Linked DNA regions of Homo sapiens: region 1 is linked to region 2. Evidence: fine-mapped expression QTL. Tissue or cell type: whole blood. Region 2 holds a variant in brackets; the other region holds the start of a gene. All regions are shown on one strand. Distances are from middle to middle.

What was found. PIP is the estimated chance that this variant, and not a neighbour inherited with it, causes the effect.
Region 1: it holds the start of TMCC1, and the variant in region 2 is fine-mapped to the expression of TMCC1 in whole blood (TOPMed, PIP 0.98).

The regions. Positions count from the first base shown.
Region 1 is chr3:129,889,257-129,897,347 of GRCh38, forward strand. It overlaps TMCC1 (transmembrane and coiled-coil domain family 1), which reads right to left and starts at 4,455. Exons shown (of 7, transcript NM_001017395.5): 1 at 4,238-4,455. It overlaps TMCC1-DT (TMCC1 divergent transcript), which reads left to right and starts at 4,615. Exons shown (of 3, transcript NR_037893.1): 1 at 4,615-4,671. RefSeq lists enhancers at 3,037-3,829, 3,830-4,621 and a silencer at 3,983-4,712.
Region 2 is chr3:129,656,157-129,664,261 of GRCh38, forward strand. All of the region lies in intron 5 of TMCC1 (transmembrane and coiled-coil domain family 1), which reads right to left. Among named protein-coding and RNA genes, the nearest start is that of PLXND1, 54 kb to the left of the region's middle. RefSeq lists an enhancer at 1,964-2,791. The variant GTTGT/G (reference allele first, on the strand shown) is at 4,000.

The DNA.
Region 1 (8,091 bases), 230 kb after region 2:
GGGAGATCCTGTCTCAAAAAAACAAACAAACAAAACCTGACCAGTAATGTTCAAAACTGCCAAGGTCACTAAATACAGGGAAAGTCTGAGAAATTGTCACAACCAAGAGGAGCTAAGGAGACATAATTACTAAATGTAATGTGGTATTGTGGATGGGATCCTGGGATAGTGAAAGAACATTAAGGAAAAAACCTGTGGAAACCTGATAAAGTATGGTCTCTGTGATAATGTATCAATACTGGTTTATTAATACAGACAAATGATCACAGGGATGTAAGACGTTAATAATATGGGAAACAGTGTAGGATAGGCAGGAACTCTGCAGTATCTTTGCAATGTTTCTGTAAATCTAAATTTTAAAGTCTATTTTTAAAAATTATAACAAATTTATGATCAACGGCATCCCTGGAATTTTACTCAGTGCATCTAGGACACAAAAGATACTTAAAATATGGTCTTTGCCTTCAAGAAGCTTGTTGTCGCAGAGTGAAGACAAATGCTCATGAAACTAGTATAAAATACAAAAATAAGAAAAAATTAAATTGAAGAGTAAAGATAAAACTATATTAAGAATATAAAGAAGGTCTAGAATTATCAGGAAAGATTTGGTCAAGGAGATAAAACTTGAATTTGTACCTTAAAATATACTTCAGAGTAGCAAAGTTAAAAAAAAAAAAAAAGAATAAACTAAGCTCACAACAACCAGAAGGGTGAAGAAATAAGAAAAAGCTAACAGAAATTAAAATGGCTGGGGCATGGTGGCTCATGCTTATAAACCCAGCACTTTTGGAGGCCAAGGCAAGGGGGATCACTTGAGGCCAGGAGTTTGCCTAGGCAACATATGAGACCCCATCTCTCTCCATAATATCTTTAAAAAAAAGAAAAATAAAAACATTCAGCTCTGAAAAGTGAAGACTTAAATAGGAGACATAATAGCAGTGCTCAAACACTTTAAGGGTCATGTGGCAGAACTAACAGAGTTACACCTATACCCATTTAACTTACAAGCCAACCTCTGGCAAAATGTGACCAATGCTCAAGGACAAAGAGAGTGACAGCTGTTCAGTGGAGCCACAACAGGAAATGCCAATATGGATAGACAGGAAGCAGGTGGCTAAGTTCTCTACAACTTTTCAAAGGACAGTATGTATGTGAGCCCAAAGAAGTAAAAATCAGATTCTAATTCTGCAAATGTTTACTGACTATCTTAAGTGCCGGGCTCTTTCAAATACATTATCTTGTTTAATATTCGCAACACATCTATGAGCATGTATTAATGTAATAGAGGCTTAACATAAAAATAGAATTAAACCCTGCATGGAAACAGGAACATGTCAAAATTCTATACCATCCCCCACTCTCTGATAGGGACTCCAGAGCAGTTTTAAAAAGCCAAACAGTCTGAAGGCCCAGATACCTATATAACAATTTATTTCCTCTTGCTCTTTCCCTCAGTCAAGCTCTGTGGCTCTCAGCCTTTCATATTCGTAAGAATTTTATACAACTATACATACAAAAACATGCAGACCATACTTTTTGAGCAATTTATGGAATTTTCCAGAAGAGTTTTCATCTTACATGATTTTTGCCTCATGCACTAACTTGAGGACCTAACCCTGGGATGAGGTGCAACTCCACTGCAGTCTTACTCCATGGGTACTGTAAGGCAGGATCAGGAAGAGGAAACGGAAAGGTACCATCCTATTACATGAAGAACAACATTCTAACAAAGACATAAAATGTATTTACATAAAATGTAAGAATGACATGTTATGTGGGGAAGTTCAACACTGGAAAACAAGAGCAGCTCATCTGCACCTGCAGACCTTTGCACTCACTGTTTCATTTACCAGGAAAGCGCTACCATTTTTCAGGTCACAACTCAAATACCTTCTCCTTAATGAGGCCTCCTCTCACTAAGTAACCCTCCACCCACCTTTCAGTCATTCACTTGTCACATCAGCTTGTTTTATTTTCTTCATAATTCATATTAGGGGTCAGCAAACATTTTCTATAAAAGGCCAGACTATAATCTATAGGCCAAATCCACCTTGCCCCGTTTTATATGGCTAAGAATGGTTTTACATTTTTAAATGGCTAGGGGAAAATATTTTTAAAAACTCATTAATATTCTGTGACATGTGAAAATTTTATGAAATTCAAATTTCAGTGTCCCAAGTTTAACTGGAATATAAACATATTTGTTCACGTACTGTCTGTGGCTGCTTTTGTACTAAAACAGAATTGAGTAGTTGCAAAAGAGATCATATGGCCCAAAAACCCTGGTATGTACTGTACTTCCTGGTCCTTTACCAAAAAAAGCTTACTAACCACTGATTTATATCATTATCTGAAATGATCCTATTTGCTTGTTTGTTGTATATTCCTCATTCCCATACATACAGAATAAAGCTTAATTAGGGAAGAGGCCTTGTCTGTTTTGTCCCAACAATGTAGCCCAGTACTTAGAAAACATCCTGGAACAAAGTAAGGGCTCAATAAACATTTGATGAATTAATGAATGATCCATAAATGCCACTCTGAGGAGCTTAAACCTAAGCCCTGAGCCATTATATGTTCTGCACATTTATGAGAGGCATAAGCAGTCTTGCAGAAAAGGGGAAATATTCTACTATCAAGAAGGCCCAGTTTAAAGTAATGGTGGTTGGTCACCAACTAGTCTAGGGCACTGGGGTTCTTCATCAAATTGTAGACTACAGGTCTTTTGTGCTCATAAAAGAGTCCTTCTGCAAGGTGTCCCAACACTGTCAGCGGTCTGTGCTTCTGTTTATCTTAAGATGCAAATGCTCTGAGAAATCTCATTCTTATACACAGTACACAGCACCTACACCATACCAAATCTTAATCAATGCTCATAATTATAACAGTTCTACATCACATGCTAATGAATTTTTAACGTCTAAAATTTTCCTATGCTGCTGATCAGCAATCTATAAGCAGCTCAAAACTCTTCAGAAATTAAAAGGTTACCACCCACAGACCAGAAGCAGCTTTTTAATCTTTCTACACTAGCCAGAGAGTGGGTGATTGCAAAAAAATACAAGCCAACTCTGTTGGTAGAGGACAGGGTTATTAAGTTAAAATCCCATCTATAAGCATCGTTTTGTCACATGACACTAGTAAAACTACCACCTACTCACAATTTGAGTTTCAATCTCCTAATATACAGAGAAAAAAATGTATCTACCTCCTGGAACAAATCAAAGTTTTGTTTTATTTTAAAGCAGCTATCTGATATTTATGCCCTGGATTTTTTTTTTTTAAGAACAGAATAAGCTAATTTAGGAATTCACACCTTTCGTAGAGATGCTTATGGTACAGGTACCTCTGACGGCTAGGCTCTACCAACACTAACGTGTAACGTGTCACAAAAGCCAACGGGCGTTGCGGGGGCCGGGGGTAGCCAACAGCTCAAGTGGGCTGCTTCACTCCGTGGCAGATTCACCTGGGGATTCCTCACCAAGAATGTTGTTAAGGGACGAACCAAACCAACCACAAATGATACCCCTTTACCGAGGCTGAAAAAGCAGAGATTCGCAAGCTATAAACGAATCTCTGGCCCTTTAGGGAAGGTGCAACTCGCTGCACCTCTTTCCCCTATCCTACAGGGGTTAACAGGGGGCATCCTGAGGCCGAGACCAAGCCCAGCCAGCTCCTCCTCACATCCCACCTCCCACTACATATTCTCCCCAGTACGCCGGGCTCCCTCCTCCCCTCGAAAGACAGTTCAAAATCAAAACAATAGGTGCAAAACTGGTTTCAGGTGGAAATGGCTGAGTCCTGGTGGCTAACTTCTGGGACGCCATGGCGATCGAGGGCTCCTAAAACCCCAGATTCCGACGGGAACCGGCTCCTAAACAGTCCCTCGGGCCTCGGCCCGACTTCTCACACGCCCCTCCCTCACCTCGGCCCTGGGATGCTGGGAAGGGAACGAGGCGAGGGGCTGGAGGGGAACCCCAGGTCAAAATGACAGCGGAATGAGCCGGGAAAGGAAAGAGGCCCCGTGGGATGCTGGGGGTCGAGTCCTAGGCCCGGGGCTTCAACCTCGAACGGGGGCGACGGCAGGTCCCAGCCCCGACAGGCCGCGAGCGGGAGGCCAGGCCCGCGTCCGCTGCGCCGCCAGGCCACGCTCCCTCACGACTGTCCCCACCCACCGCGGAGGGCCGTGAGGGGGCCGCGACCGCCGCCAGCGTCCGGGGCGGGGGCGCTCACTCACCGGCGGGGAGGGGAGGAGCAGCCGGCGTCTCCGCCAGCGCCGTCGCTCGAGCTCAAGCGCCTGCTCCTTCCACTGCGGCCGCCGCACCCGGTCCATCCCCCACAACCACCCCCCCCTCCCGACCCTCCCCCCGCGCCGCCTCAGCCGCCGCCGCCTCAGTCACCGCCACCGCCGCCGCCGCCTCAGCCCCGGCGCGGGAGGGCGAACCGGCGCGAGAGAGCGAGCGCGCGCGCGCCCCCGCCACAGCCGCCACCGCCCACAACCTCCGCCCCCGGCCGGCGGCGCACGCGCAAGGGAGCGGGCGGACGGGCGCGCGCACGCCGCAGGGGCGGGGATGGGCCCTGGAAGGCGTGGCCCCTCCCCTAGCCCGCCTTCCCACGCGGTCTCTGGGCTGGTTGAGCTGCGCCGCTGCAGGTAGTGCTGAGTTGCTCCAGGTAAGCTCCTCCTCTCAAAAAGCTCTAGGAACCGAGCCACCCTCGCCCTAGGAGCAACGCCCCTGAGTAATATGGGGTTTCGTCGGATTTCTGCCCGCCGCTCTGGATCACACGTTTGTTCTCCCTATTTGAGTCGCAAGGCCTTCCTTCATTCCACCTAGCAGGCTGCTTGGAAAAGGGCAGAGACTCATTACTTTGCACCAGGTATTACCACTGAAGGGATTGTAAGCAGCCACCAGCCCATCCCTTTATAATTCCCATTTTCCTAATTTATTTTATTTTTATTACTTATGTAATGAGGCTTCTTCCGTGTTCAAGGAGCTGGGAGTACCATATGGGGTCAACGGAGTCCCTGGTCTCATGAAGTTTGAGATCTGGTGGAGAAGGAAAACATTCATGGGAGAATCAGACAAAATTAAGTTTTCAATTAGTAAAAATCTTCTGAGAGGTATATGGTACTAAGAGAATCTTTATGGGGGAATTGATTTAGTTGAGGATGAAGAGGGTAGAATCTGAGGAATTGAGTTGGGAGGAGTTAGTTGCTCCAAGGGGTGAGGTCTTGGCATGGCCAGAATGGGGAGCGCTAAAGAATATTGAATGTGGAGTAGACTGCGAGTGTGGGAAGAGGTAGGCGAGAACAGGTGAGGATTGGGGACCTATTTATTTATTTATTTATTGAGACAGAGTCTCACTCTGTCACCCAGGTCACCCAGGCTGGAGTGCAATGGCTCGATCTCAGCTCACTGCAACCTCCGCCTCCTGGGTTCAAGCGATTCTCCTGTCTCAGCCTCCGGAGTAGCTGGACTACCAGCGCACGCCAGCGCACCTGGCTAATTTTTGTATTTTTAGTAGAGATGGGGTTTCGCCATCTTGGCCAGGCTGGTCTGGAACTCCTGACCTTGTGATCTGCCCGCCTCGGCCTCCCAAAGTGCTGGGATTGCAGGCATGAGCCACCACACCCGGCCGGATTTGGGACTTTAATCTGAGTGCTTGGTAGAAGCTATTCAGGTTTTTTTCAGCAGGGTTGCAGGGGAAATAACTTGATCATTATGTCTGTTTTTTGTTTTTGAGAGGCAGACTGGAGTGCAGTGGCGCGATCTCGGCTCCCTGCAATCTCTGCCTCCCGGGTTCAAGTGATTTTCCTGCCTCAGCCTCCCTAGTACCTGGGACTACAGGTGCACGCCACTGCACCCAGCTAATTTTTTTAGTATTTTTAGTAGAAACGGGGTTTCACCATGTTGGCCAGGATGGTCTGAATCTCCTGACTTCATGATCCACCCACCTCGGCCTCCCAAAGTGCTGGGATTACAGGTGTGAGCCACCTTGCCCCCAGCCCATTATGTCTGTTTTTAAGTTACTTAGATAGCAACGTGAAGAGTGGTCTGATGGGAGTCTCAAAGCTGGGGCCGGGAAGCCAGTTAGGAGGCCACTGGCCACATAGTCAAGGCAAAGTAGGAGGGTAGTGACAGAGAAGAGTGCTAATGTAGTGGTAAAATGGACAGGACTTGGCAATAAATTGAATGAGGAGTGAAGGAGAAGGAGGTGGCAAGGTTTACTTAGATTTGAGGTTGGTGGAGGATGCATTTATAGATTTCAGAAGCACTGAAGGAGCCACCTGAGGTAACTCAAAATGGATGATAAACCTAAATTTAAAAGCTAAACCTATAAAAGAAAATTTTAGAAGAAAACATAGAAAAAGTATTTGTGACCTTGGGATAGGCAAAGACTTCTTAGGACACAAAAAATATGAACCATAAAAAGTGATTCATGGCCTGGCTCACACCTGTAATCCCAGCACTTTGGGAGGCCAAGGCAGGCAGATCACTTGAGCTCAGGAGTTCAAGACCAGCCTGGGCAACATGGCAAAATGCTATCTCTACAAAAAATACAAAAGTTAGCTGGGCTTGTTGGCACGTACCTGCAGTCTCAGCTAACTTGTGGGGCTGAGGAAGGAGGATCACTTGAACCTGGGAGGCGGAGGTTGCAGTGAGCTGAGATGGCGCCACTGCACTCCAGCCTGAGTGACAGGGTGAGACCCTGTCTCAAAAAAAAAAAAAAAAAAAAGAAAGCAATTGATAAGTTGAACTCTATCAAAATTAAAAACTGGTACTCTTTGAGAGACAACATTAAGAAAATGAAAAGGCAAGCCACAGGTGGAGAGTTTGCAATAGAAAGCATTAGACAAAAGTCTTGTATCCAGAATACATAAAGAACTGTTATAAATGAGTAATAAGCCAGCCCAATAAACCAATGGGCAAAGGCTTTTTTTATATCTTGTAGATAGTTCACAAGATACAAAAATGGCCTATAAGCAATGAAGAGATTACCAACATCTTTAGTCAACTAGGGATTTTTCCATTTAAAACCACAACACTCTCATTAGGATAGCTAAAATTAAGACCGATGACCCAGCAATCACACTCCTACACATCTCCTTAACCATACTTGATCTCTAAAGGCTGACAATAACACACCAGGGACCCTGTAATCCCAGCACTTTGGGAGGCCAAGGCAAGAGGATCGCTTCAGCCCAGGAGTTCAAGACCAGCCTGGGCAACCTAATGAGACCCCATTTCTACAAAAAAAATTTTTTTTAATTAGCCAGTGTGGGAGTGTACACCTGTAGTCCTAGCTACTGGGGAGCCTGAGGCAGGAGGATCCCTTGAGCCCAGGAGTTCAAGGTTGCAGTGACCTATGATCGCACCACTGTACTCCGGCCTGGGTACCACAGCAAGACCATATCTCTTAAAAAAAAAAAGTCTTTGGCTGGGCGCAGTGGCTCACGCCTGTAATCCCAGCACTTTGGGAGGCCAATGTGGGCAGATCATGAGGTCAGGAGTTTGAGACCAGCTTGGCCAACATGGTGAAACCCCATCTCTACTAAAAATACAAAAATTAGCCGGATGTGGCAGCGTATGCCTCTAATCCCAGCTACTCAGGAGGCTGAGGCAGGAGAATCGCTTGAACTTGGGAGGCGGCGGTTGCAGTGAGCCAAGATCATGCCATTGCATTCAAGCCTGGGTGACAGAGTGAGACTATGTCTCAAAAAAAAAAAAAATTTAAAGACAATAACAAAGTCATACTTTCACTTAACATGATATAACTATCCTGCATACTATTGAAAACATAACAACACTTTTCCCAAGGGGATGCAAAGTCCTTGAGTGATGTTTCTTCTCCACCTTTGATGTCTTATAACTTAATACTGCAATATAAAGTTACCTATCATTAATACGTCTCCATCTTGTAGTAGCAACCGAATTTCCTGCTTAGTAATCAGGATTAGTCACCTCAGCCAGTAGAGGAACTTCCCACTTTACCTGTTGATTCAGAGGCATGAAAGACCCAAGGTGGCCAGGTGACCACCTCAACTCCCAATTCAATGGAAATGTTGTTGGGTCTCCTGGTGGAAGCATTCCT
Region 2 (8,105 bases):
GGTAGGTTGTATGTGGAGTCCCAGGAACTAAAGAGCTAAGTAGATAGGAGAAAGGTTGAAGACTCCACATTTAAAAAACACTAGAAAAGGGAAGAATAAACATATGTCTAGCTTCTGGTGCCTAGAATGGAAACCTCTCTGTCAGGCAGAGGGCAGATGGGTAGCTCTCATCCCAACAGGGAATGTACTATCACTCAGGTAGCATACATTTAACATTAACACCAGCATGTGAGTCTCAAGGGACTTCATACTAAAAGAATAAAAATGCCAGAACAAACTCACACATCTAAAACTATCTCCTTTCTTTCTTCTTTTTAATCACATCTATAATATGTAAACAAACTTTTAAAGAATATAATGAATTTCTGTGTTTAAGGTAATTTTTATGTTGCAGCATCATAAACATTCTCCCTTCCAATAATTATGCAATAAATAATTATATCCTAAACTCCACTGCTTTTCTAAGAAACAAGGATTTTTTTAAAAGGCATTGTCTTACCCTTTTTACGATGTTACTAAACTCTATTTAGTTCTTCTTTATCCTTGATAGGAGTCTCTATACTGCCTTCTTTTATGCTGAAACTCTTCCTGTTATTGAAGTGACTGAACAGGCTAATGAGAAAGCAGTCCTACTTTTGATGGATAACTAGGGTCAAAGTTCTCTGTGACTCTGCCTTTTCCTTTCATCTGCTGCCCAGAGTACGTGATCAGGAACAGGTCCCATCCCTAGAATTGATTTTCCACCAAAATTTAAGTTCACAAAATGCCATAAGATAATGTTAACATAATGTCTTTTCGTGACTGTCCTATGTTAGCCCACTCTTCTGTGGTGTTTTCGGTGTTTGATAGTTTCATCATTCTCTCTCTTTACCAGAGAGGGGCCAGAGACTTTTTTAAAGCCGCATTCCAAAGTGCTGGTCTCTTGGGATTTAAGGGAAAGGTTATATCTGGCAGGAAATTACTCTCCTCAACTAAGGACTGTTGGGTGGCAGGGAGGGGAGCAGGGTGGTGGTCACCAGCCTACATCTTGATAAAAGCAGACACATGTGGGATCTCTGCATGTGTCCCACAGGCTACCACACAACCTCTTAGCCTACAAATTTCAGGCTTCTTAGGAATCTTATTTGATATTAAACATGGCTCATACATACCAGTAGAACAGATTAAAAAATAGCAGCCACAGCAACAGTTTAATCAGTGCCTACTATGCAAATTCATTTCAACAACCCCAAGAGGGTAGAAGGTATTATCTGCATTTTATAGATGAGGAAACAGAAGCTCAGAGAAGTTCTAAAGTGAATTGCCCAAGGGCACAAAAATATTAAGTAGGGCAGCAAGGATTTGAATCCAGTTTTGACTTTAAAATCCAAGTTCTTAAACTTTACAATGTGATGCCATTTTGAAACTCTACAAACCCAGATCAACTAACTCTCCTCATAAGTAAGAAATCAGAGTCAGAGTGCTAGCGATCCAAATCACTTAGCAAAAGTGAGCTGGAAAGAGCTACACTGATGTGATGGTTTGGAGTCTGATGTCAAAGTGGAGTTGATGGGAGAAGGAGGAGTATAATAAAAAATTATGAACCTACAATTAAAAAGATAAGAGTTGGTGAGGGCATGGAGAAATCTAAACCCTCATATACTGCTGTTGGGAATGGAAAATGGTACAATTGCTCTGCAAAACAGTTTGGCACCTCCTCAAAAAGTTAACAGTTACCTTATGACTCAGCAATTCTACCCCAGATATAACTGAAAAGAAATGAAAACTTATTTCTTCTATACAAAAGCTTGTACATGAATGTTCACACCAGCATTAATCATCATTGCCAAAAAGTATAAACAACCCATATGTATACGAGTGTTCACTGTACAACAATATATCATCTTGGCTGTTCACAAGTCAAGTATCAATATTTTGTATCCTAATCTGCTTGTCATTTGCCACCTGGCAAGTTTCTGTTCACTTTCTTCCTTTCTCCTTCAATCGATGGATGCTCACAGAAACATTAGAACATAAAACACAAATGTGAACACAGTTTTGCTTTTCACTACATGTATGCATATGAAGATCCCGAGCCCTAGGCAAAACTACAAAATAGGCTGACTTATGCCTTCACTCCCACAACATGGACTTCCTTCCTACTGCAGAAACAGTTCACAGGAGCAGGAAGGCTGTTGTTATCCTTTCCTCATCTTCTCACCTGACCTTTCATAATATACAGACACTCTTTGACTTACGATGGGGTTACTTCCTGAAAACAATATTTCCCATTTATGATGGGCTTAAATCAAACCATTGTTAGCCAGGGACTGTCTGTACAACAACATGTATGTCACTCTAGCAAGAATAATTCCCAGGACTGGGGCCTGAGATATTCTCTAGCAGCAGCCTGTGGGCTCTGACTCGGCTTTGACCTTACCTGCCTGGCCTTTTTTGTTCAGACCCAGTATGAAGACAGCAAAATACAAGGCATGCTTATCTTTACAAATAACATGAGGCAAGAAAGAGGTGAAACAGCAGACTGAATTCAAAATGATATTGACAGATTCAAGTGCAGCCAAGACTTTACCAGGGATTAATTCTATAGAAATAGGGAACTACTTCCTACTGCTGAATTCAGGTATCAAGAGCTCATGTAATGAGGGGGTAGCTTGTTCTTTGTAACTCCACAGAACTAAGGAGTAAGTCTTACAAATAGTTTGGTCTTTAGTTCAATTTTAGAAAGAACTTTCTAATAGCTATGTCTAACAATGAAAAAAACTATCTTAGAAAATGAGACCCTGCTACCAGAGATATTCAAGGAGAGGCTGCTTGTCAGGGATGTTGCAGAAATAAATCCTCTATTGAAAGAGATTTAACTAGACCTCTGAGATCTTTTCTAACACCTAGAGTTTGATTCTTTGTAGTCAGGGAACCTGTTTTCCTTTTTCTTTCTTTCTTTTTTTTTTTTTTTTTTTTAAAGAGATGGGGTCTTGCTCTGTCACCCAGGGTGGAGTGCAGTGGTGCAATCATGGCTCACTGCAGCCTCAAATTCCAGAGCTCAAGGGATCCTCCCACCTCAGCCTTCTGAGTAGCTGGGACTACTGACATGCACCACCAAGCCTGGCTATTTTTTTTTTTCAGAGACAGGGTCTCACTATGTTGCCCAGGCTGGTCTTGAACTCCTGAGCTCAAGCAATCCTCCTGCCTCAGCTTCCCAAAGTGCTGAGACTACAGGTGTGGGGCACCACACCTGGCTATTTTCATCTTTCAAACTATAGATACTTTAAATTTTGTGGTATATTTGCCTTCACAACGTATTGATTTTAACAACAATAAAGGGGGGCAAGGAGGTACACAAAATAGTGGTAATTTAAGAACTATGTAAAATCAGGTGTGAAATATTGGGATTCACTTGGTATGTGAGGTGGTGAGGAATATATATGAATCAGAGAATACTTGCAAAAGTCCTCAGCACTTATTCCCAACACTTTTGAACCTTACAATAAACCAATGTTTATCATAAGAAGGTTGCAAACCTGTCAAAGGTTCTGGAAGTCATTTTCAAACTAGATTTTGGTTCATCCCATATTATGTCTAGAGGTGCTCCATCTTCACTCCTGCCATTTTGCACCTAGAAATGTTTTCATAATGCAGTTTGTACCAGCTAATGCATGTGCTCAGTCCAGGTTTTGGATTAAAATCCCAGCTCTGCAACTCGCTAGCTTGGGTGATCCTTTTCATCCTCTATAAAGAGGAAATCTACCTACTCCAAAGGGCAATTGCAAAGATTAAAGGAGAAGACAGACATCAAATACCTGGCACACAAGAGGTGCTCTGTGAGACAGATATATCACAAATATACATTTGGTTTCATTTTTCTCTTTTGTGAGTCTCCTAGTTCTCCCCAACAATCCCTAGCGAGGTAGTTCAAAAAGATTGCTTGTTGACTGCCACATAGTCTTACTCCACTGTTCACTGATTCCCACTTCTGACTTTTTTCTCTAAGCCTTTGTTGTT[GTTGT/G]TTGTTTGAGACAGGGTTTTCTCTGTCGCCCAGGTTGGAGTGCAGTGGCGTGATCGTGGCTCATTGTGGTCTCAATCTCCTAGGCTCTAGTGACCCTTCCACCTCAGCCTCCCAAGCAGCTGGGACTACAGGCATGTGCCACCACGCCCGGTTAATTTTGTTTTTGTATTTTCTGTAGAGACGGGGTTTCGCCATGTTACCCAGGCTGGTCTTGAATTCCTGGATTGAAGTGATCTTCCTGCCTTGGCCTCCCAAAGTGCTGGGATTACAGGCATGAGCCACTGTCCATGGCCTTAAGTCTTCATTTCTTTATGTCCACTTTCCCAATTTTATATATTTTGACATTTTCACTGTTTTCAGTATATTTATGATGTTTTTCCTATGACATCACAGAAATGGGTTTACTGGGCACACACTCCATCCTCCTCAATCCTAGATACAAGCCTCTTTTACTTCTTATTTCATACATCTAGGTTCCTGCCATTTCCCTGGCTCAAGTTTGCCAGATAATTCAAATAGTTCCATGCACTGGCCATTTCCAAACTTTCCTTTGTACTGGTGAAACTATCTACCTATGTATGTGTGTGAGGAAAGGTGTCTCAAGTAATTTTTATTTTTTTATTTTAGAGACAGAGTCTCACTATGTTGTCCATGCTGGAGTACAGTGGTTATTCAGAGGCATAATCATGGTGCACTGCAGCCTCAAACTCCTGGGCTCAAGTGATCCTCCCATCTCAGCCTCCTGAGTAGCTGGGACTACAGACCTGTGCCATTGTGCCCAGCTCAAGTAAATTTTATCTAATTTTTTCAAATCTCCAAAAAGAGTTATATAGAAACTGCTAATCCTCACCATGCTCTTACAGAAAATAAAGTCCTTTAGAGGTTGAACAATTTATTCACAGTTACATGGGAAATTAACAGCAAGTTCTTCTCAAGCTGAGTCTTCCCAAATAAGAAAATGTAACTATTGTTCACAGAGATAATGCTTTGTTAGCAAGCAGCTAAATAGCAAAGCAGCATTTGGGTAAGTAGAATGATCTCAGCAGATGAAACAGACAAACATGGAGACCAATCTGGGCAAAATAGCAAAACCCTGTCTTTACAAAAAATACAAAAATTAGCTGGGCATAGTGGCATGCACCTGCAGTCCCAGCTACTCAGGAGGCTGAGGTGGGAGGATCACTTGAGCCCGAGAGGTCAAGGCTGCAGTGAGCCGAGACTGTGTCACTACCCTCCAGTCTGGGTGACAGAGCAAGAACCTGTCTCAAACAAACAGAAAAACCCACAAACAAAAACAGGAGTCCCAGAAGGATGCAGTGACTCCCTAGTTAGTAGTGAGGTTTAATAAGGATCTGAACCAATTGGCTTGTGCCTGTTATTAGATTATTGTCTTTTTAAAAACTTTTTGACTGGGCAAATTGCTTGACCCCAGGAGTTTCAGACCAGCTTGGGCAACATGGTGAAACCCTGTCTCTACTAAAAATACAAAAAAAATCAGGTTGGTGTGGTGGCATGTGCCTGTAATCCCAGCTACTTGGGAGGCTGAGGTGAGAGGACTGCTTCAGCATGGAAGGCAGAGGTGCAGTGAGCTGAGACTGTGCCACTGCACTCCAGCCTGGGTGACAGAGTAAGACCTTGTCTCAAAGAGAAGACAAAAAAATTCTGTATTGTTAATGAAATGCAAATAACGAAAGGAAAAAAAAACCTGTATTCTAGTTCCCACTGACTTCCCACTATCCCCATTACTAATATTATAATCTTCTTAGCACACTTTATTTTCTAGTGTTTACTTCCTGTCTAAATTCTAAAATGGAGAAACCAGGTACAAATACCTCTATCTTCTCATTAAATATTAACACCAAGCCAAACAGTAGGGGAGAAAAAGGGAAGATACATGTTTTATAGACTTTCATATGTGAAAGTCTTGGGTTTTTTTTAAACCTAGAACTCTGCTTTAAGGAATTTTAACCCCTTTACAGGATGCTAAATAGAACTCTCCAGACACAAATCGGGGCAGAGGAGATGGTGGGTGGGTGGGAGGTTCTTAATCATACAAGAACAGTCATGCCTCACTTAATGATGGGGACACATCTTGAGAAATGAGTTGTTACGTTATTTTATCACTATGTGAACACCATACAGTGTACTTACACAAATCTAGATAGTACAGCCTATGATACACTTAGGCTGTATGGTACAGTCAATTGTTCCTAGGCTACAAAGCTGTACAGCAAGTTACTGTACCATAGGCAACTGCAGACAGCTGTAATACAATAGTGTTTGTGTATCTAGACATATCTAAACATAGAAAAGGCACACTAAAAATATGGCATTACAGGCTTGGTAGTGCATGCCTGTAATCCCAGCTGCTTGGAAGCTGAGGCACGACAATTGCTTGAAACCGTGAGGCAGAGGTTTCAGTGAGCCGAGACTGTACCACTGCACTCCAGCCTGGGCAAGAGTGAGACTCCATCTCAAAAAAACAAAACAAAACAAAAACAGCATTATAAACTTATGAAACAACTGTCTTATATGTTGTTGATCAAAATGTCATTATTCAGCACATGACTATGTGTGATTTTGGCTGGCAAATGATGTTCACGCACCTCCGCTTGGATTACAAGTAGCATGAGATTAATAATCTTATTTTAAGGATTTTTACTCAAGGTCCTTCCTAAATTGTTACAACCCAAAGAGAACCTGGACACTTAAATATGGCATGAGCTTAACTATCAGCAAACAGAAAGCCTTTGCACTGTAAGATTATTTTTTCTAAAAGCAAGTATCATATTTTGGTAGATGAAATTCATCCCCCACTGGAAGCAAAACCTGTTCTATCTACAAAGTATTAAACACATCAAGATTTTGTCGTAGGTAAATAATTCATAAATAAATACTAAACTTGAAAGTGTTTTGGTCACTAGGTCAACACAGTAGTCAACTTCCTAGATCAGAGATGAGCCAGGGGCCTTTTGTGTCAAATTACTGATGAATGGGAGCCTGGGTGAGTACACAGCCTGGGAATGCTTTGACCTGAAGCATTCCTCTTTGGGTGTGGCTCAAAAGTTTGGAGCCATCTCTGAGAACCAATGGTGCTTCCCTAGTTCGGCAATAGGTCACTAGCACAGGATAGCTGAAGAAACTTGTGGAGCAGGTATTGAGAGAAACAGGAAGAACTAGGTCCCAGGAAAAACACCCACAGGCAACTATGGGAGAAGAATGGACTATTTCCCAAATGCATACCAGAGACCCAAAATAGCTTCTGCCAGTGTTTGACCAGAGTAGAGAGACACAGTTGGGGTAGGGAGTATGACTTGCGGTGGGAGTTTGAATAGGTTCCTAGCTGAATTGGGGAGAGTGGATTTTTTTCTCCTTACCTTTTGTTACCTTTTTTGTGTTGAAGCCTGAAAAGAAGCTAAAAAACACTGAACTAGCCTTCAGCTGAAAAGGGAAAAAGATATCAGTCCCCCACAATATTTCAAGGGTAGGCAATGAATTATCTTAATGACAAGAAAACAGTAAATATCTAAATAATACAGGAAATAAATAAAAACTAGAGGGGCTTTCTGGGCAACTTGCAGACTTGGTAATGACAGCTTTCTAACATTCTGGCACAACCCAGATCTTTGTATTCCCCTAGAAAAAATGGAGGAGGAGGGAGCATTTGTTGAGCTCCTACTCTAAACCAAACATCACACTAGGTACTTCCATATATGTTATCTCCTTTAATAACTTCAACAACCATGTACAATAAATATCATTACATTTTTACAGAGGGAGAAACTGAGGCTCAGATGAGTTATGTAATCTACTCAGAGCTGGCAAGCAAATTCAAGTTTGTCCACTCCAAGGAATAAGGGTTAATTAATTAATCCCCTCCATTCCTCTTTAGCGGCTAAACGCTAAACTGGGATGAGCTCACCCATAAATCTCTTTTATGGAAGATTGTATACGTCATATTTCCTAATTGGGATTTTGCTTCTCTCATAAATGAAGGGCTAATTTGATTCAGTACCCTCAGTTTCTATTTCAAACTTATTGTCCAAATCTAGCCTACATATCGTCTGGAGATTCTCAGATCACTTTTCAGTTGACAGGTCTC